2 separate regions of the Homo sapiens genome follow, and region 1 is linked to region 2. The links come from fine-mapping of genetic effects on gene expression. Tissue or cell type: whole blood. Region 2 holds a variant in brackets; the other region holds the start of a gene. All regions are shown on one strand. Distances are from middle to middle.

What was found. PIP is the estimated chance that this variant, and not a neighbour inherited with it, causes the effect.
Region 1: EMB starts here. The variant in region 2 is fine-mapped to the expression of EMB in whole blood (TOPMed, PIP 0.93).

The regions. Positions count from the first base shown.
Region 1 is chr5:50,435,641-50,446,134 of GRCh38, forward strand. It overlaps EMB (embigin), which reads right to left and starts at 5,648. Exons shown (of 9, transcript NM_198449.3): 1 at 5,400-5,648. The coding sequence starts at 5,511. RefSeq lists silencers at 5,192-5,381, 5,462-5,591.
Region 2 is chr5:50,279,840-50,290,333 of GRCh38, forward strand. No RefSeq gene overlaps it. Among named protein-coding and RNA genes, the nearest start is that of EMB, 160 kb to the right of the region's middle. The variant A/C (reference allele first, on the strand shown) is at 6,308.

The DNA.
Region 1 (10,494 bases), 160 kb after region 2:
CATTTGATCAAAGTGCTGTCTGCCAAGCTTCTCCACTATAAAGTTACTCTTTTTCCCTTGATATTAGTAAGCATATTCTGAAGAGTTACTTTGAATCTTTAGTACTTTGTACCCCATCAAAGTTTTCATTGATTTATTTTTTAATTTGCTTCAGTTGGTACTCATGAATCCCCATATTATTAAATGGGTTACAATCCACTAATATTATTATTTATTTTGATGCTCAATTTTGTCCCAGATTTGTCCAGTGGGAACCCCTTCATATTGGCTCCTGTATCTTTTTGACATGACTCATTATCCTTTGAGCACTCCATTGCTTTCTGGCACAAGATGTTCTAGGCTTATCTGCTACTTTCCCACACTAGCCCTGAAATCAGCCATTTCTCCAAGAAGCCTTGGTTACTATTAGTAAAGAATGGTATTTAGAACCCAAGATCTGGGTGCTAAGTATACTCATCACTACTGGAAATCACTGCTAAGAATACATGTGCACATATTCATATACACATACAACTTATAATGTATATCATATACACTTATGTATATGATATGCATGATACGTATTCATCATACATATATTTACACATATACTTGTTTAAAGCTATATACCTATATAGACTTAAGTAAAGAGATAGGGATTTAATGTCATGGATTCCCATGGATACTGCCAACTGCAATCCAACACCACAGGGTTCATTCTACTTTTTCTCTATCTTTATTTCATTCTTCTCTAGTGAAAAACCTAGATCCTATTATCTTTCCTAGATTTAATTATTTGATCCATCACCCTGTATACTGCTAAACTGTCATTGCTACTGCCACACCTGTCCCCACAGAGATGTCTCCTTACCCACTCAGGCTCCAACCTCCATCGCTGGTCTGACCCTCCTACATGCTTTCCTCCACATCTTGTTTGGGATCAAACATCACCCATCTGCTGCTCCTGCACAAAAGCCTTGTTAAACTTGCTCAACTCTGGGATCCTGTGTCAAGCTGCCCGCTGCAGGAGCAACCATTCACTGTGCTCAGGCCCTAATACTCCACACCAGGCTGCCCTCCTGCCTGATGCCATCCTTACCAGGGTCAGCCTCAGATATCCTGATCTGGTCCCCTTGGGCTCCACCCACTTAGTGAGGATGTCTCCTTGCTCTTCCCCACCAAATAACTATAGGACCTATGGAGGGAAAGATGAGAGGTAGGAGGGAAGGGAACGAGGGTGACAGAAGATGAGGAAGAGTCAGTTGCCCTAATTCTTAACAAATGTTTTCAACATATAATTTTTTTGTGATGATAAATTTAGGGTAAAAATGGTCATGCATCAGAAACATCACTATTAAAAGTAGGCTTAGGCTGGGCACCGTAGCTCTCGCCTATAATCCCAACACTTTGGGAGGCTGAGGCAGGAAGATCGCTTGAGCCTAGGAGTTCAAGGCCAGCCTAGGCAACCTAGTGAAACCCCATCTCTACAAAAAATACAAAAATTAGCCGGGTGTGGTGGCATATGCCTGTAGTCCCAGCCATGTGGGAGGCTGAAGTGGGAGGATCTCTTGAGCCCAGAAGGTCAAGGCTGCCCTGAGCCATGAGTGTGCCTCGGTACTCCAGCCTGAGTGACAGAGTGAGACCCTGTCTCAAAAATTAAATGAATGAATGAATGAATAAATAAATAAAAGTAGGCTTATGGTTCATCTGTTCCATTTAAACAGATTTTGGTCTTTGATCATTTGATCAAAGTGCTGTCTGCCAAGCTTCTCCACCATAAAGTTACTCTTTTTCCCTTGATATTAATGAGCACATTCTGAAGAGTTACTCTGAATCTTTAATACTTTGTACCCCATCAAACTTTTCATTGACTCCTTTTTAAATTTACATCAGTGGGTACTCATGAATTCCCATATTATTAAATGAGTTGCAATCCACTAATATCATTATTTATTTGATGCTCAATTTGTCCCAGATTTGTCCAGTGGGAACCCCTTTAAATGTCCTTAAAGGTAAAAACTGCCAGCATGTTCTACTGAGATATGGACTAACAATGTCAGACATATGTGGGTGCTTGAATAGTATTTGCTTCAAAAATATTTATTACTAGAAAGCTGCTGTGTTTGGGGTGAGAGGTTAGTAGGGAAGGGGGTTCATAAAGGGAATGCAAAAGCCACGTCCTCTGGAAGTTAAAAGGATCATTTTAAATGATTCTACTGCAAACATTTTTCAAAAGATAAACATGACCCATTTCTCCAATTTGTGTCATGTAATAGTAATAATAATGATATTTAAATACTCCCACTGATATATCCTTTACAAAGATATATTATATGTCTTATTTAATCAAAAAACCTTAAAACAGTCCCTGTACCTAATTTTATTCCAGGACTCAAACTGTGTCAGCATGTCATTCAGTGCAAATCAGACATTTAGATGCATAGGCTATGCTGTCAGTAGTTCTGAACTTTCATAGACATTTCCAATTAGCTCGGAGAGACAACTGGATATTGTGTTTAAGCACTGTGTTTAGGAAAACAGGCACTGGATGGACCAATGCCAAATTTCCTGCTCTGCTGCTTAACTAAGTATGTGTAATTACTTGGGCAATTAAGCAATTACTTGGGCAATTACATAAGCCAAGCCCCAATTTCTTCATCTTGAGCCCAGAAGGTCAAGGCTGCAGTGAGCCGTGAATGTGCCTCTGCCCTCCAGCCTGAGCGACAGAGTGAGAATTCCCCAGGAGTGCAGAGGTTCTCAGAACTGCAATACTCTGAGATGAATTTTGAAAGGTGAATCAGGGATAGAAGAATTAGGGATACCCAGAAAGGAGAAAAATGTTCTAGACAATTCTTTTTTCTTTTTTCAGCTGGAACTAAAAAAATGCTAACTCATAGGGCTATACATTTATAACTATTCTTATTATTAAAATTTGACTCAAAGTCTTAGGTTAACAGACAACCTGTGTCTAAGTATGTAGGCCTATACATCTAGGTCAAAAATATCCAGTAAACCTCACAATATCCTTTGGCAAAGAGAAAAATGAATTTCCCAGAGATCAATACCGAATCTAGAAAACAAGCTGAGAGTGCCTGACAATTTTTAATTCTGGCTTAAATTCGATGCTAACTTCATAACTTTTGTCTTGTACATTATTCCACAATTTTAGCTTACGTGGAGCTAAAAGAGCAGAACTTATACCATATACATAGAGTGACATCCCCTCCCCCATTCATCTTATTGATTTACACCTTCATTTATTCCACTTTCATTTGTTTCCTACCTTTTTTTTTTTTTTTCCTTTAGAGATCTTCTCTGCATATCAACTTAACCCTGACGCCTATGGAATAAGTATTTACCTAACAGTGCACTGTCTAGGCCATATCATTTTAAAGCTGTGGTTTTTAACCAGCTTAAAATCACATTTAAAGCTACATGGAGAGCTGATGAAACTCCTTAATGCCCACACTGAATCCCAAGCCAAATGAACCAGAGTTTTGCGGGAAAAGATCCAGGTATCAGGATTTTTCAAGCTCTCTGGTGATTCTGACATACAGTCAAGTAGAGAATCAAAGTTCTACAATGAATCCAGAATGCACTGGTTCTCAGAACTGCAATACTCTGAGGTGAACCAGGGATAGAAGAATTGGAGATACCCAGAAGGGGGAAAAATGTCCTGGACAATTCTGTTTCTTTTTCTTTCTTTTTTTTTGAGACAGTTTTGCACTGTCACCCAGGCTGGAGCTTAGTGGCACCATCACCATCATAGCTCACTGCAGCCTCAAACTTTGGACTGAAGCAATCTTTCTGCCTTGGCATCCCAAGCACCTGGGACTACTGGTGTACATCACCACAACCGCACTTTTAATTTTTTTTTTTTTTTTTTTAATAAAGAAGGGACCTTGCTATGTTGCCCGGGGTGGTCTTGAACTCCTGGATTCCAGCCATCCTCCCACCTCAGCGCCCAAAAGTGCTGGGATTACAGGCCTGGACAATTCTTTATAAGTGGTATTATGGAAAAGAGATGTGGCACAAGGAAATCTGCGAAGGAACCCACGATGTTCTGTCCAAGTTGTTAACAACTAGACGTTTTAAAAGGCATTTATAAAAATTAATAGTCTTACCTTTTGATTATCCTTCCTTCTCTATGGTGTGTTACAAAAATTCCACATCTTACAAGCCCATGAAAATAAATTCCCATGAGAGTTTGAAAACTTTTTGCAGAATAATGTCCCAATTTTAGTTACTGGTGGCCAATATTTACCAGCTTGAGAGGTGGTCTTTTATTACCCTTACTGGCTGGTAACATTTATGACACAGAAACTTGCAATAGGTTGGATGGAATCCTTTCAATATGAAAAGTAATTATAAACAGGTGAAGGTAGAATGGCAACTTTCGTGTTGGCTTTGTTAATGTTTTGCACGTAATCCCTCTGTCAAAGTGTCTTAAACAATAAAACAACAAGCAAAAATCTCACACATACACACACACACATGCACACACACATTTTGTTTTCAAAGACCACGGTGTAAAATGAAGATACACACACGTTATCCTGTAAGTTGTGGATCTTTGGTTGGCTAGTTGGTTATGATGTTTTTTCCCCTACTCAGCTCTAAAAAAACATCCTCGGCAAGGTGAGGTGGCTCACGCCTGTAATCCCAGCACTTTGGGAGGCCGAAGCGGGCGGATCACCTCAGGTTGGGAGTTCGAGACCAGACTGACCAATGTGGAGAAGCCCAGTCTCTACTAAAAATATAAAATTAGCCCGGCGTGGTGGCGCATGCCTGTAATCCCAGCTACTCTGGAGGCTGACAGAGGAGAATCGCTTGAACCCGGGAGGAGGAGGTTGCGGTGAGCCGAGATCACGCCATTGCACTCCAGCCTGGGCAACAAGAGTAAAACTCCGTCTCAAAAAAAAAAAAAAAAAAAAAAAAAAAATCCTCAAAGCCAACCCACCTGCCAAGAGGAGGGAAGGAGGTGATACTCGAGCCTTACTCTCGAATCAAGAAAAGGGAGTAGGCCTTGGGGAAATGTGGCTTTCAAAATTCATGCCATATTTGCCCAAGCCAAGTCGCTAGCTGGTCCCTGCAACCACCCACACACCCCACTGCCTTCTTCCTAGGAAAAACCAGACTCTGCCCTGTTACCTACGCGCCCGACTCGCGGGGCGCTGTTCGTTCAAGACTCGCCCCAAAGAGCGCAGGAACGCGAGCCGCAGCAGTTTCAGGGTTCAGCTTAGGTGACACAAACGTAGCTAATGGGAGGCCGCCGCCGACTCTCCCACCCGCCCTTACCAGCATCCCCGCGCCTCTCCCCGCCACCCTTGCCCGGCGCGCCGGCGATGCCCTCTGCCCGCGGGGACCCGAGCCTCGCGCGCCCTCCGCCCTCCCTACCCTGGACCCTGTACCCATCACACCTGGGGCACTGCCGTCCGCCGAGCTTGGGCGCGCGGCAGCGAGAAGGCACTGGAGGAGGAGCAGCCGGGGCGTACGCGCCCTGGCCTCCAGCAGGCCGGGGAGGGCGCGCATGGCGCCAGAGGGTCCGCCTGGGTCCTCGTGGAGACTGCTCCCTCAGCTCGCCGCCGCGGGTGTCCAGAGTCCCTGCGCACACTCGCAGGTGGCCCGGCGCTCGCAGCCAGTGCCGCGGGTAGGACGCTGAAGAAAAGGCGGAATGGGAGGGGCCCGGCCGCCTTGCCCCACTCCCCCGAGACGCTCTTACCGCGCCCGGCCCTCCATCAGTTATGCAGCCCTCAGCCGGCTGCTGGCGTTCCCGGATGTGCGGTGGCGGTGCTACTTCCCGGCTGCAGCCTCTCCGGCCTCCGCCCTCTCGGCTCTAGCAGGTCGGGAGAGAGCTTGGGCAGGTGATGTCTAGCCAATCTCGTGGGGAGAGGTCGAAACTCTGCCTACAGACTGGCCTTTGCACTTCACCTGAGGCAGGTTTCACTAATTTGCTTTGATGGGACAGATGAGAAACACTTTTCTCCTCCCGGACCCCGGACATCTTTGGGCTTTCTTACGAGGGAGGCTTATTTTTGCGCAGGTGTAAGGTTTTATCCAGCTGCCAGACAACTTGTGTTAATCTTTCTTTGCTTTGCCTACCAATCACACACATTCTCTCTTCTAGTCTCTGAAGGCTTAACTGATTTTCTCCGGATGAAGGTTTTAGAGTCCCAAGGCCCCATACCGTGTCTGATTTTACTTTATTTTTGTTTGTTAAGCCTAACAGCTTCTGAGGAGCCACCTAGAGCTCAAGAAGCAAAAGCTACTGAGAGTAGATACTATGTAAACTGCACAAGACATTGACCTTTGTTAAATCCGAACACTCTTTAAGATAATGCTCTTACCCACAAGGCTGTAGCTTGGAATATTCAGTGCTCTGAACCAAATTAAATAAATTAGTGCTTTATCCGGGAGGGGAGGAGAAATCTATATTGTAACATTGAAACACATTGATTTGATTTCTCTCCAGGATGTTATAACGCATTAAAAGATATTTTTAAAATTTTTCACGAGCTTTGTTTCCTCTCCCTTTATTTTTTTGAAGTTCAGCTTTCACATTCGTAAATTCAAAATATATCGGCGTTAAAAAAAAAAGGATTGGAAATAACATGAGACAAATTTTGAAAATTGAGCTATTTAACAAAACCTGTGTTTATTCCAGGCAGGAATGGTTAATTTGTAATTGGTACGTATTACTAAAACACGTCTGTTTCTGGTTTAGTATTATATGCACAAAACTTTGGAAACAGAATGTAGATTCTTCAAATTGGCAGTGAGATAATATGAATAATACAATTCATTCAACAATATTATCTACCAGGTGCCAATCTACCATTGTGTTCAAAAGAGGCTAGATAGGCACACATGCACAAATGCACGCATGCACACATGTACACACACACACACACAAATTAGACAACTGTTTATCTGTGAATGACAAATCTCAGAAAAGCCTCTTCTCAGAAAATTATGGTCAAAATTATTAAAATCTTCTGAATGAAACTTTAAAAGATGCCTTCAAGGACTAAATCTTATACACTGTTGACCCTCTGAGGGCATTGACTGGGCTTGCTAAACCCAAATTGCCTAATCAATGGCTGCTACATCACACCTCTTTCTTTCAACCCTGCATCTGGTCTCAGGACTAACTGCACACATTTCCCTATAATTAGGTAGAGTGTCAACAGTAAGCACTTCTCACCTCAAACTAAACTCTGACTGACTTTTCCCAGTTAGTCTCATAAAATCCTTAGACACAAATTCACCCTTCTTAAAGAAACATTTTTTTCAGTTGAATCAGCCTATTTATGACCAGAAAAACTTACTTACCCAAGTTGATGCTGATCCCCACTGTTGCTTTTGCTGTTGGAACAAAAGAGTTGAGAAAGAAATATAATTCTCATTTTGCTAAGCATTTTGAAAGTCTTTTCATCACTGTTCCTGTTCTATATTTAGATATTTGATATTTCCAGCCTTATGTACATTCCACTTTTTCAAATGCTCCATATCCTTTAAAACAAGCTTATTGACTGCCTTCCCTATATAACTTTTTCTATCCCTGATTCACCTTTCAAAATTCATCTCAGAGTATTGCAGTTCTGAGAACCTCTGCACTCCTGGGGAATTCTCACTCTGTCGCTCAGGCTGGAGGGCAGAGGCACATTCACGGCTCACTGCAGCCTTGACCTTCTGGGCTCAAGACGAAGAAATTGGGGATTGGCTTAAGTAATTGCCCAAGTAATTGCTTAAGTAATTGCCCAAGTAATTACACATACTTAGTTAAGCAGCAGAGCAGGAAATTTGGCATTGGTCCATCCAGTGCCTGTTTTCCTAAACACAGTGCTTAAACACAATATCCAGTTGTCTCTCCGAGCTAATTGGAAATGTCTATGAAAGTTCAGAACTACTGACAGCATAGCCTATGCATCTAAATGTCTGATTTGCACTGAATGACATGCTGACACAGTTTGAGTCCTGGAATAAAATTAGGTACAGGGACTCTTTTAAGGTTTTTTGATTAAATAAGACATATAATATATCTTTGTAAAGGACATATCAGTGGGAGTATTTAAATATCATTATTATTACTATTACATGACACAAATTGGAGAAATGGGTCATGTTTATCTTTTGAAAAATGTTTGCAGTAGAATCATTTAAAATGATCCTTTAACTTCCAGAGGACGTGGCTTTTGCATTCCCTTTATGAACCCCCTTCCCTACTAACCTCTCACCCCAAACACAGCAGCTTTCTAGTAATAAATATTTTTGAAGCAAATACTATTCAAGCACCCACATATGTCTGACATTGTTAGTCCATATCTCAGTAGAACATGCTGGCAGTTTTTACCTTTAAGGACATTTAAAGGGGTTCCCACTGGACAAATCTGGGACAAATTGAGCATCAAATAAATAATAATATTAGTGGATTGCAACTCAGGGATAGAAGTACTGGGGATACCCAGAAGAGAGAAAAATGTTCTAGACAATTCTTTTTTCTTTTTTCAGCTGGAACTAAAAAAATGCTAACTCATAGGGCTATACATTTATAACTATTCTTATTATTAAAATTTGACTCAAAGTCTTAGGTTAACAGACAACCTGTGTCCAAGTATGTAGGCCTATACATCTAGGTCAAAAATATCCAGTAAACCTCACAATATCCTTTGGCAAAGAGAAAACTGAATTTCGCAGAGATCAATACCGAATCTAGAAAACAAGCTGAGAGTGCCTGACAATTTTTAATTCTGGCTTAAATTCGATGCTAACTTCATAACTTTTGTCTTGTACATTATTCCACAATTTTAGCTTACGTGGAGCTAAAAGAGCAGAACTTATACCATATACGTAGAGTGACATCCCCTCCCCCATTCATCTTATTGATTTACACCTTCATTTATTCCACTTTCATTTGTTTCCTACCTTTTTTTTTTTTTTTCTCTTTAGAGATCTTCTCTGCATATCAACTTAACCCTGATGCCTATGGAATAAGTATTTACCTAACAGTGCACTGTCTAGGCCATATCATTTTAAAGCTGTGGTTTTTAACCAGCTTAAAATCACATTTAAAGCTACATGGAGAGCTGATGAAACTCCTTAATGCCCACACTGAATCCCAAGCCAAATGAACCAGAGTTTTGCGGGAAAAGATCCAGGTATCAGGATTTTTCAAGCTCTCTGGTGATTCTGACATACAGTCAAGTAGAGAATCAAAGTTCTACAATGAATCCAGAATGCACTGGTTCTCAGAACTGCAATACTCTGAGGTGAACCAGGGATAGAAGAATTGGAGATACCCAGACGGGGGAAACTTTTTCTGACCTTTCTGGTCCAAATTGACCTTTTCCTCCTTGGTGAAATAAATATTGCAACAAGCACTTTGATACTCTCATCATGAAGCGTATAAAGGGGGAATAAGGGTCCTTTGTTTTCTCCCCTTGAGTTGGGTGGGCTCTTTGACTCCCCTAACCTACTGAATATTGCTGAAGAGATACTGTGTGGGCTGGCCAGGCGTGGTGGCTCGCGCCTGTAATTCCAGCACTTTGGGAGGCTGAGGCAGGCAGATCACAAGGTCAGGAGCTCGAGACCAGCCTGGCCAATATGGTGAAACCCCGTCTCTACTAAAAATGCAAAAAAAAAAAAAAAAAAAAAAAAAATTAGCTGTGCATGGTGGCGCATGCCTGTAATCCCAGATACTTGGGAAGCTAAGTCAGGAGAATTGCTTGAACCCAGGAGGCAGAGCTTGCGGCAAGCCAACATCGCACCACTGCACTCCAGCCAGGGCAACAGAGCAAGACTGTCTCAAAACAAAAAAAGAGAGAGAGAGATTGTGTGAGCTTTCTGTTCCAGACCACAAGAGCTTCCACTTCCTTTCTGTTGGAGATCTTGCTCATAGAAGACACCTGCCTAGTGAAAAGTACTACAGTATTATCCTGAGACTGCCACACTGTGAGAAACCCAAACGCCATGGAGGACCCCGTAAAAATAAAGTCAGGTCAAGTAAAAAAGGAATATGAAGGTTTATTATACATACAGAAGAATAGTTCACAAACCAGAAGACTTCAAATCAAAAATAGTAAGAAACTTGACGTGAGAGTTACAGTGCAGCTTATAAAGCATCAATGAGGAAGTGCATTGACCTCTGCTGTGACTGGCTATTAAAAACATATTCCTTTTTGGGCAAGTAGAGTTGTATAAACTTATTTATCTGTAACAAATTGGTTCAATTTCATCATACTAACAAGAAAGGAAAGCTTAACTTTTGTTAATCATTAGAAATTGCATTTCAGAGAAATCAGGATAGCTTAAATTTTGGTTATGTGGCTATGAGTGGTTGACCTAAGAATATACTGTTGCCTCCATTTTGATTATACTTTAACAAATCCCTCATACAGGACCTTAAATCATTGTTGATTGTTTCCTTTGCTGTGCAGAAGCTTTTTAGCCTGGTTCAATGCCATTTGTCTATTCTTTCTTGGTTGCCTGTGCTTTAGAGGTCTTACACAAAATGTC
Region 2 (10,494 bases):
GGCTCAAATTCTGAAAATACAGTAAAAACAGTAAACTATACATTTTTAAAAGGTGAATTTCGTGGTATGTGGATTATATGTCAATTAAGCTTTAAAAAATATATTGCACTGAACATAAGACACAAACTCAAACATTTCACCAGGTAACTTCAGTTTGGGAACCTTATGTAATCTCCACCTGAGTCATGCTCCTGTAAATTTGGATCTCAGAAAGTGCCAGTGAAAAATCAGAATTTCTCTCCTATAAGGCGGGCCCTAAGCTTCATATGCAAATTAGTTCATGATGATTTCTGTATACCAAGAAGTGTGTAACAGTAGTTTTCAAACCTTAGTATATATTCATTAGAAATATCTGGAGGACTTATTAAAGAACAGCTAGGAGGTAGTGGGAGCCAAGATGGCCGAATAGGAACAGCTCCAGTCTACAGCTCCCAGCGTAAGCGACGCAGAAGATGGGTGATTTCTGCATTTCCATCTGAGGTACCAGGTTCATCTCACTAGGGAGTGCCAGACAGTGGGCTCAGGTCAGTGGGTGCACGCACCATTCACGAGCCGAAGCAGGGAGAGGCATTGCCTCACTGGAGAAGCGCAATGGGTCAGGGAGTTCCTTTTCCTAGTCAAAGAAAGGGGTGAGAGCACCTGGAAAATCAGGTCACTCCCACCTGAATACTGCGCTTTTCCAATGGGCTTAAAAAACGGTGCACCACGAGATTATATCCCGCACCTGGCTCGGAGGCTCCTGTGCCCACGGAGTCTCCCTGATTGCTAGCACAGCAGTCTGAGGTCAAACTGCAAGGCGGCAACAAGGCTGGGGGAGGGGCGCCCGCCATTGCGCAGGCTTGCTTAGGTAAACAAAGCAGCCAGGAAGCTCAAACTGGGTGGAGCCCATCACAGCTCAAGGAGGCCTGCCTGCCTCTGTAGGCTCCACCTCTGGGGGCAGGGCACAGACAAACAAAAAGACAGCAGTAACCTCTGCAGACTGAAATGTCCTTCTCTGTCAGCTTTGAAGAGAGCAGTGGTTCTCCCAGCATGCAGCTGGAGATCTGAGAACGGGCAGACTGCCTCCTCAAGTGGGTCCCTGATGCCTGACCCCCGAGCAGAATAACTGGGAGGCACCCCACAGCAGGGGCAGACTGACACCTCACACGGCCAGGCACTCCAACAGAGCTGCAGCTGAGGGTCCTGTCTGCTAGAAAGAAAACTAACAAACAGAAAGGACATCCACACCAAAACCCATCTGTACATCACCATCATCAAAGACCAAAAGTAGATAAAACCACAAAGATGGGGAAAAAACAGAGCAGAAAAACTGGAAACTCTAAAAAGCAGAGCGCCTCTCCTCCTCCAAAGGACCACAGTTCCTCACCAGCAATGGAACAAAGCTGGACGGAGAATGACTTTGACGAGCTGAGAGAAGGCTTCAGATGATCAAATTACTCCAAGCTATGGGAAGACATTCAAACCAAAGGCAAAGAAGTTGAAAACTTTGAAAAAAATTTAGAAGAATGTATAACTACAATAACCAATAGAGAGAAGTTCTTAAAGGAGCTGATGGAGCTGAAAACAAAGTCTCGAGAACTACGTGAAGAATGCAGAAGCCTCAGGAGCCAATATGATCAACTGGAAGAAAGGGTATCAGCGATGGAAGATGAAATGAAGGAAATAAAGTGAGAAGGGAAGTTTAGAGAAGAAAGAATAGAAAGAAACGAACAAAGACTCCAAGAAATATGGGACTATGTGAAAAGACCAAATCTACGTCTGATTGGTGTACCTGAAACTGACGGGAGAATGGAAGCAAGTTGGAAAACACTCTGCCTGATATTATCCAGGAGAACCTCCCCAATCTAGTAAGGCAGGCCAACGTTCAGATTCAGGAAATACAGAGAATGCCACAAAGATACTACTCGAGAAGAGCAATTGCAAGACACAAAATTGTCAGATTCACCAAAGTTGAAGTGAAGGAAAAAATGTTAAGGGCAGCCAGAGAGAAAGGTTGGCTTACCCTCAAAGGGAAGCCCATCAGACTAACAGCGGATCTCTTGGCAGAAACTCTACAAGCCAGAAGAGAGTGGGGGCCAATATTCAACATTCTTAAAAAAAAGAATTTTCAACCCACAATTTCATATCCAGCCAAACTAAGCTTCATAAGTGAAGGAGAAACAAAATACTTTACAGACAAGCAAATGCTGAGAGATTTTGTCACCATCAGGCCTGCCCTAAAAGAGCTCCTGAAGGAAGTGCTAAACATGGAAAGGAAAAACTGGTACCAGCTGCTGGAAAATTATGCCAAAATGTAAAGACCATTGAGACTAGGAAGAAACTGCATCAACCAACGAGCAAAATAACCAGCTAACATCATAATAACAGGATCAAATTCAAACACAAAAATATTAACTTTAAATGTAAATGCACTAAATGCTATAATTAAAAGACACAGGCTGGCAAATTGGATATGGGGTCAAGACCCATCAGTCTGCTGTATTCAGGAAACCCATCTCATGTGCAGAGACACACATAGGCTCAAAATAAAAGGATGGAGGAAGGTCTAACAAGCAAATGGAAAACAAAAACGGCAGAGGTTGAATCCTAGTCTCTGATAAAACAGACTTTAAACCAACAAAGATCAAAAGAGACAAAGAAGGCCATTACTTAATGGTAAAGGGAACAATTCAACAAGAAGAGCTAACTATCCTAAATATATATGCACCCAATACAGGAGCACCCAGATTCATAAAGCAAGTCCTGAGTGACCTACAAAGAGACTTAGACTCCCACACATTAATAATGGGAGACTTTAACACCCCACTGTCAACATTAGACAGATCAACGAGACAGAAAGTCAACAAGGATACCCAGGAATTGAACTCAGCTCTGCACCAAGCGGACCTAATAGACATCTACAGAACTCTGCACCCCAAATCAACAGAATATACATTTTTTTCAACACCACACCACACCTATTCCAAAATTGACCACATACTTGGAAGTAAAGCTCTCCTCAGCAAATGTAAAAGAACAGAAATTATAACAAACTGTCTCTCAGACCACAGTGCAATCAAACTAGAACTCAGGATTAAGAATCTCACTCAACACCGCTCAACTACATGGAAACTGAACAACGTGCTCCTGAATGACTACTGGGTACATAACAAAATGAAGGCAGAAATAAAGAAGTTCTTTGAAACCAACGAGAACAAAGACACAACATACCAGAATCTCTGGGATGCATTCAAACCAGTGTGTAGAGGGAAATTTATAGCACTAAATGCCGACAAGAGAAAGCAGGAAAGATCTAAAACTGACACCTTAACATCACAGTTAAAAGAACTAGAAAAGCAAGAGCAAACACATTGAAAAGCTAGCAGAATGCCAGAAATAACTAAAATCAGAGCAGAACTAAAGGAAATAGAGACACAAAAAACCCTTCAAAAAGTTAATGAATCCAGGAGCCGGTTTTTTGAAAGGATCAACAAAATTGATACACCGCTAGCAAGACTAATAAAGAAAAAAAGAGAGAAGAATCAAATAGACGCAATAAAAAATGATAAAGGGGATATCACCACCGATCCCACAGAAATACAAACTACCGTCAGAGAATACTACAAACACCTCTATGCACATAAACTAGAAAATCTAGAAGAAATGGATAAATTCCTGGACACATATACTCTCCCAAGACTAAACAAGGAAGAAGTTGAATCTCTGAATAGACCAATAGCAGGATCTGAAATTATGGAAATAATCAATAGCTTACCAAGCAAAGAGTCCAGGACCAGACGGATTCAAAGCAGAATTCTACCAGAGGTACAAGGAGGAACTGGTACCATTCCTTCTGAAACTATTCCAATCAACAGAAAAAGAGGGAATCCTCCCTAACTCATTTCATGAGGCCAGCATCATCCTCATACCAAAGCCGGGCAGAGACGCAACCAAAAAAGAGAATTTTAGACCAATATCCTTGATGAACATTGATGCAAAATCCTCAAAAAAATACTGGCAAACTGAATCCAGCAGCACATCAAAAAGCTTATCCACCATGATCAAGTGGGCTTCATCCCTGAGATGCAAGGTTGGTTCAACATATGCAAATCAATAAATGTAATCCAGCATATAAACAGAACCAAAGACAAAAACCACATGATTATCTCAATAGATGCAGAAAAGGCCTTTGACAAAATTCAACAACACTTCTTGCTAAAAACTCTCAATAAATTAGGTATTGATGGGACTTATTTCAAAATAATAAGAGCTGTCTATGACAAACCCACAGCCAATCTCATATTGAATGGGCAAAAACTGGAAGCATTCCCTTTGAAAACTGGCACAAGACAGGGATGCTCTCTCTCACCACTCCTATTCAACATAGTGTTGGAAGTTCTGGCCAGGGCAATTAGGCAGGAGAAGGAAATAAAGGGTATTCAATTAGGAAAAAGGAAGTCAAATTGTCCCTGTTTGCAGACGCCATGATTGTATATCTAGAAAACCCCATTGTCTCAGCCCAAAATCTCCTTAAGCTGATAGGCAACTTCAGCAAAGTCTCAGGATAAAAAATCAATGTACAAAAATCACAAACATTCTTATACACCAACAACAGACAAACAGAGAGCCAAATCATGAATGAACTCCAATCACAATTGCTTCAAAGGGAACAAAATACCTAGGGATCCAACTTACAAGGGACATGAAGGACCTCCTCAAGGAGAACTACAAACCACTGCTCAATGAAATAAAAGAGGATGCAAACAAATGGAAGGACATTCCACGCTCATGGGTAGGAAAAATCAATATTGTGAAAATGGCCATACTGCCCAAGATAATTTACAGATTCAATGCCATCCCCATCAAGCTACCAATGACTTTCTTCACAGAATTGGAAAAAACTACTTTAAAGTTCATATGGAACCAAAAAAGAGCCTGCATCGCCAAGTCAATCCTAAGCCAAAAGAACAAAGCTGGAGGCATCACACTACCTGACTTCAAACTATACTACAAGGCTACAGTAACCAAAACAGCATGGTACTGGTACCAAAACAGCATGGTACTGGTACCAAAACAGAGATATAGATCAATGGAACAGAACAGAGACCTCAGAAATAACGCCGTATATCTACAACTATCTGATCTTTGACAAACCTGAGAAAAACAAGCAATGGGGAAAGGATTCCCTATTTAATAAATGGTGCTGGGAAAACTGGCTAGCCATAAGCAGAAAGCTGAAACTGGATCCCTTTCTTACACCTTATACAAAAATGAATTCAAGATGGATTAAAGACTTAAACGTTAGACCTAAAACCATAAAAACCCTAGAAGAAAACCTAGGCATTACCATTCAGGACATAGGCATGGGCAAGGACTTCATGTCTAAAACACCAAAAGCAATGGCAACAAAAGCCAAAATTGACAAATGAGATCTAATTAAACTAAAGAGCTTCTGCACTGCAAAAGAAACTACCATCAGAGTGAACAGGCAACCTACAAAATGGGAAGAAATTTTTGCAACCTACTCATCTGACAAAGGGCTAATATCCAGAATCTACAATGAACTCAAATTTACAAGAAAAAAACAAACAACCCTGTCAAAAAGTGGGCAAAGGAAATGAACAGACACTTCTCAAAAGAAGACATTTACACAGCCAAAAAACACATGAAAAAATGCTCACCATCACTGGCCATCACAGAAATGCAAATCAAAACCACAATGAGATACCATCTCACACCAGTTAGAATGGCGATCATTAAAAAGTCAGGAAACAACAGGTGCTGGAAAGGATGTGGAGAAATAGGAACACTTTTACACTGTTGGTGGGACTGTAAACTAGTTCAACCATTGAGGAAGTCAGTGTGGTGATTCCTCAGGGATCTAGAACTAGAAATACCATTTGACCCAGCCATCCCATTACTGGGTATATACCCAAAGGAGTATAAATCATGCTGGTATAAAGACACATGCACACGTATGTTTATTGTGGCTTTATTTACAATAGCAAAGACTTGGAACCAACCCAAATGTCCAACAGTGATAGACTGGATTAAGAAAATGTGGCACATATACACCATGGAATACTATGCAGCCATAAAAAATGATGAGTTCATGTCCTTTGTAGGGACATGGATGAAATTGGAAATCATCATTCTCAGTAAACTATCGCAAGAACAAAAAACCAAACACCGCATATTCTCACTCATAGGTGGGAATTGAACAATGAGAACACATGGACACAGGAAGGGGAACATCACACTCTGGGGACTGTTGTGGGGTGGGGGGAGGGGGTGGGATAGCACTGGGATATATACCTAATGCTAGATG[A/C]GGAATTAGTGGGTGCAGCGCAGCAGCATGGCACACGTATACATATGTAACTAACCTGCACATTGTGCACAAGTACCCTTAATCTTAGAGTATAATAATAATAAATTTTAAAAAATCAAAACAAACAAACAAAAAAAACAGCTAGTTTCTGATCCCACAGGTCTGGGAGGGGTTTCAAAGTTTGCAATACTAACAAATTCTCAAGTAATGCTTACACTGCTCTTCCAGGAGCTACACTTTGAAAATCATGCTAAGCCTTCATGTACCAAAAAATAAGCCATTAAATACAAAAGATCACTTATACTCTTCTGCCAGGTGCCTATTTGTCTTATATTTGCAAAACCAACAGCCTTCCTGGGCTCAGGTGACCCTTCTCCATATCAAAAGAAAAAATTTCAGCATCTCTAAATTATAATATTAAAATTGAACCTGTAAAAGAGGAGAAACATATTTCAGGTGATAAACAAGAAATTCAACCTTGTGGTGACATTGCAACATCTAGGAGGAAATGTTGTTGGATGTTGATGGTTTAGGTGAGAGGAAAGTAGTTAATAGTTCAGATTTTTGAGTGAGACTTTCTTGGGAGTAGTGCTTCAGTGAAGGACAACTGATAACAAGGGTCTATGCTTATAGGAAGCTCCAAAATTAGGGGAGGAAGAAAAGTTAAGAAGGAATCAAGAGAGTGGGTAATTTAGAAGCAAATGCAGAGTAGGATGGTGCTAGGAACGCAGGCAAAGCCATGTTAACAAGGCAGACAGCAGTGTAAAAGGCAGAAGAAAAGTATGGTCTGAAAAGGGAGTCTTGGATTTTTAAAAGACAGAACAAGGTAATTTTGGAGCTGGCAACAATCTAAATGATGATATAAGGCAAAGTTTTTTTAAAAATTTGCCCATTTCCCTTAGTTAGAGATGCAGTTTACATGTCAACAATACAAGTTATATGTCAACAATACAGTTTATATGTCAACAATACAGTTCACATGTCAACCATACAAGTTAAACAGTAAAGTGAAAGTTTTTGTGTGTGTGTTTGTTCTGTTTTGTTTTGTTTTGTTTTGTTTTGTTCTGTTTTGTTTTGAGATGGATTCTCACTCTGTCTCCCAGGCTGGAGTGCAGTGGTGCAATCTCGGCTGGATGCAACCTCTGCCTCCCAGATTCAAGCGATTCTCCCTCCTCAGCCTCCCGAGTAGCTGGGACTACAGGTATACAGTACCACGTCTGGCTAATTTTTGTATTTTTGGTAGAGACGGAGTTTCAACATGTTGGCCAGGCTGGTCACGAACTCCTGACCTCAGGTGATCCACCAGCCTAGGCCTCCCAAAGTCTTGGGATTACAGGCGTGAGCCACCACTCCCAGCCTAAAGTGAAAGTTTTTTAAAGAAATGCACGTCTCTATTTTCTACTTCATTTGGTCAAGTAATGGGTCATGACATGAACTTGAAAAACCACTGTTCTAGGTTAGCCTACTCGTTTCACTGAGGAAAGTAAGGCTGAAAGTATACAGGACCATAGCAAATCCAATATTCACATGAAGGATCCTGACTTCTAGTCTACTGTAAGGCCAAGTTAATCACCCTAGGGAAGGCATTTTTCATGGCCTTGAGTTTATAAAACACCTCAGCCTTAAATGCTTTTCATATTTTAGCCTTTGAATGTTTATTGTTGTGACAATGTATATAAACATTGAGATTTCTGTTCCACCTACCACAAAAATTACTCTATTAAAAATACAAGAATATAGTTTATAAGTACACTAGCTTGATTCCAGGTACCATTGATTTTGTTTGTCTACTTAATTGTGTTTTCCAAGTATTAGCTCTGGACCTCCTAACAGGCAGCCTTCACTAATCCCTGAGAGTTCTGATCCTTTGCTCTTTTCACTCTATTGCTCTAGTACCCAATTGCCTGGCAAGAAGAATAGAGTAGAAATGCTGGAGTCCAAGAAATCTGGTTCAAAAATAATTTGTGCAATTTTTAGCTGGACATATTGGACAGGTCCTCTTTTCTCTGTGATCTCTGTTTTTCTCATGTTTAAAATCTAAATAACACAGTCAATTTCATGTTATATCTAAATGAAATACTGCAATAGAGTACTGCACAAACATGCAATTATTTATTCTCTTACCCAGACAAGGCAGCTCAGTGCCTGGCATAAAGTGTCATTCAATAAACATAGTTACCTACGCTCATTTCTACATCCCTCCAAGGTACTGCTCTCCCAACAATTAAGTCCTGTTCTAAATTCAGTCTTATGCCTCTACTGTTACACCTATGCCAAAGCTAGCATGAATGATTTGAGAGTCTACCGAAGGGAAAAAAATCTGGTTTTCTCTGAACAACACATCCATCCAGGAGACTTATCATTAGAAAAACCAGTAAAGAGAGGATCAGAGCTAGCTGAAAATAATTTTTCAACATGGTAAATAGGTATTATGAGATTTTCCCTTTGAAATGACTTGGTTTAAACCTCTCTTTATATATAGCGCTTCACAATAGTTGATATTTTACATTTGTTTATTGATCTAACCCTTCCTATCCAACTGTAAACATCTTGAGGGCAAGGTCTGTGTCCTCTTTTTCTTAGAATTCTCTCATGGCATTCATCTCAACTGTCTTCCTACAAAAAACTATTGTGTGTGTTGCACCAGTAAGATTGGGTTTTATACAGGTTTAGGGTGAAGTATGGTACATAAAGGTTTTCCCTCTGAAATCCATGCTGTTCTTAGCAGAGAGCAGTGAGTAACCAGTCCATTATAGGAATGAACAAACAGCCTGCATTCTGTAAAAGTTTCCAAGGAAATACTACCTATAGGGTCTTCTCAGTAGAGATTTAGGCAAACAGACTAAAAATAAAACCAGTGCTACAGTCCCTCTCTCCCAACAGCTTCAAGAACGTGCTTTGATTTGAAACAGATAGATTTGCTTTGAGCACAATACTCCTGACGGCCAAAACATAACACAAATATTCTTTCTGATACTTTAGAATACCCAAGGCCCACGATTCAGGAAAAACACCTGTAAAAAAATGACATCAACTCTATAAAAGTTTCCAAAATAAAATTGCTAATGCTGTTTAGCTTGATTCATGTAAATATTTTTAAGGGAAACATTCTAGACTCCTTTTCATACCTCAGGACTATAATAAATCAGATATAAAAAGACTATAAGTCCCTAGAATTCAGTTGATAATTTTTAAATATCTATTTTAAGCTGTTTACAGATCGCAGAATTCTCAGATAGAGGCCTCATCTGATTTCTTCCTTGTAATCATTCTGGGAGATACTACCGTTTTACTTATATTTCATAGATGAGGAAACTGAGTGAAGTGATTTTTCTACAGTCATCACCCAAGGTCAATGCTTCCACATTTTGAACTGTTTTTTATTCTTTAAATCATGCAGTTTCTCTACAGTTCTTTGGTACTATAGTGTTTTAATTTTCCTTTATTCTATCTTGGTGTCCAAGGAAAATTTTGCTTATGAGGTACTTTCCTCTAGCATAGTTACCATGTGATGGCAAATTCCACCTTGAATCAGAGCAGTAGGAAAAATAACAAAGGAAGAATCACAAAGAGCATCTGCTGATGATAACAAAGGCTATAGAGAGGCTGGAATGGAAAATTCTGGGAACAAGGATGGCGCTTCCCTTAAAAGCTACACAGCACTTTATGCATGGATTTTTAACAATTTTTCTTTCAGTCATCGGGACATGACAATGATCTAGAATGTAGAACTGTAGTAAGCAATTTTAGGTGAGCTATTGGTAAAAAATTACCTGAGAGTTAGCATGTGCTACCACAATTTATATACAACCTGAAAATTTTATGATACAGCGTTAAATAAGAATGGCTTAGCTAAATAGTGTGTGTAAGCAATAACCTTCCACTGTCTTTATGTCTTCACAATAGCAGCAGATACCTACCAGGATTGACTCATGCCATTCTGTCTTAATGGGTCTGCTTTCACAAGTTTTTCTATTGCTTCAATAATGCGAATCCAACTATATTCCTTTGCCTTAATTAAGTTTTTTCAATTACATTCTAAATCTTACATGTTTCATGCCAATTTCCATAACTATCAGCTTTAATGTGACACTTTAGAAAACAGAATTTCAAATATCAAATATGCATTCCATATTTCTTTAAAAAAAACTGTTCCAATACTGAGTTTCCAGATTCATTTATTTGAT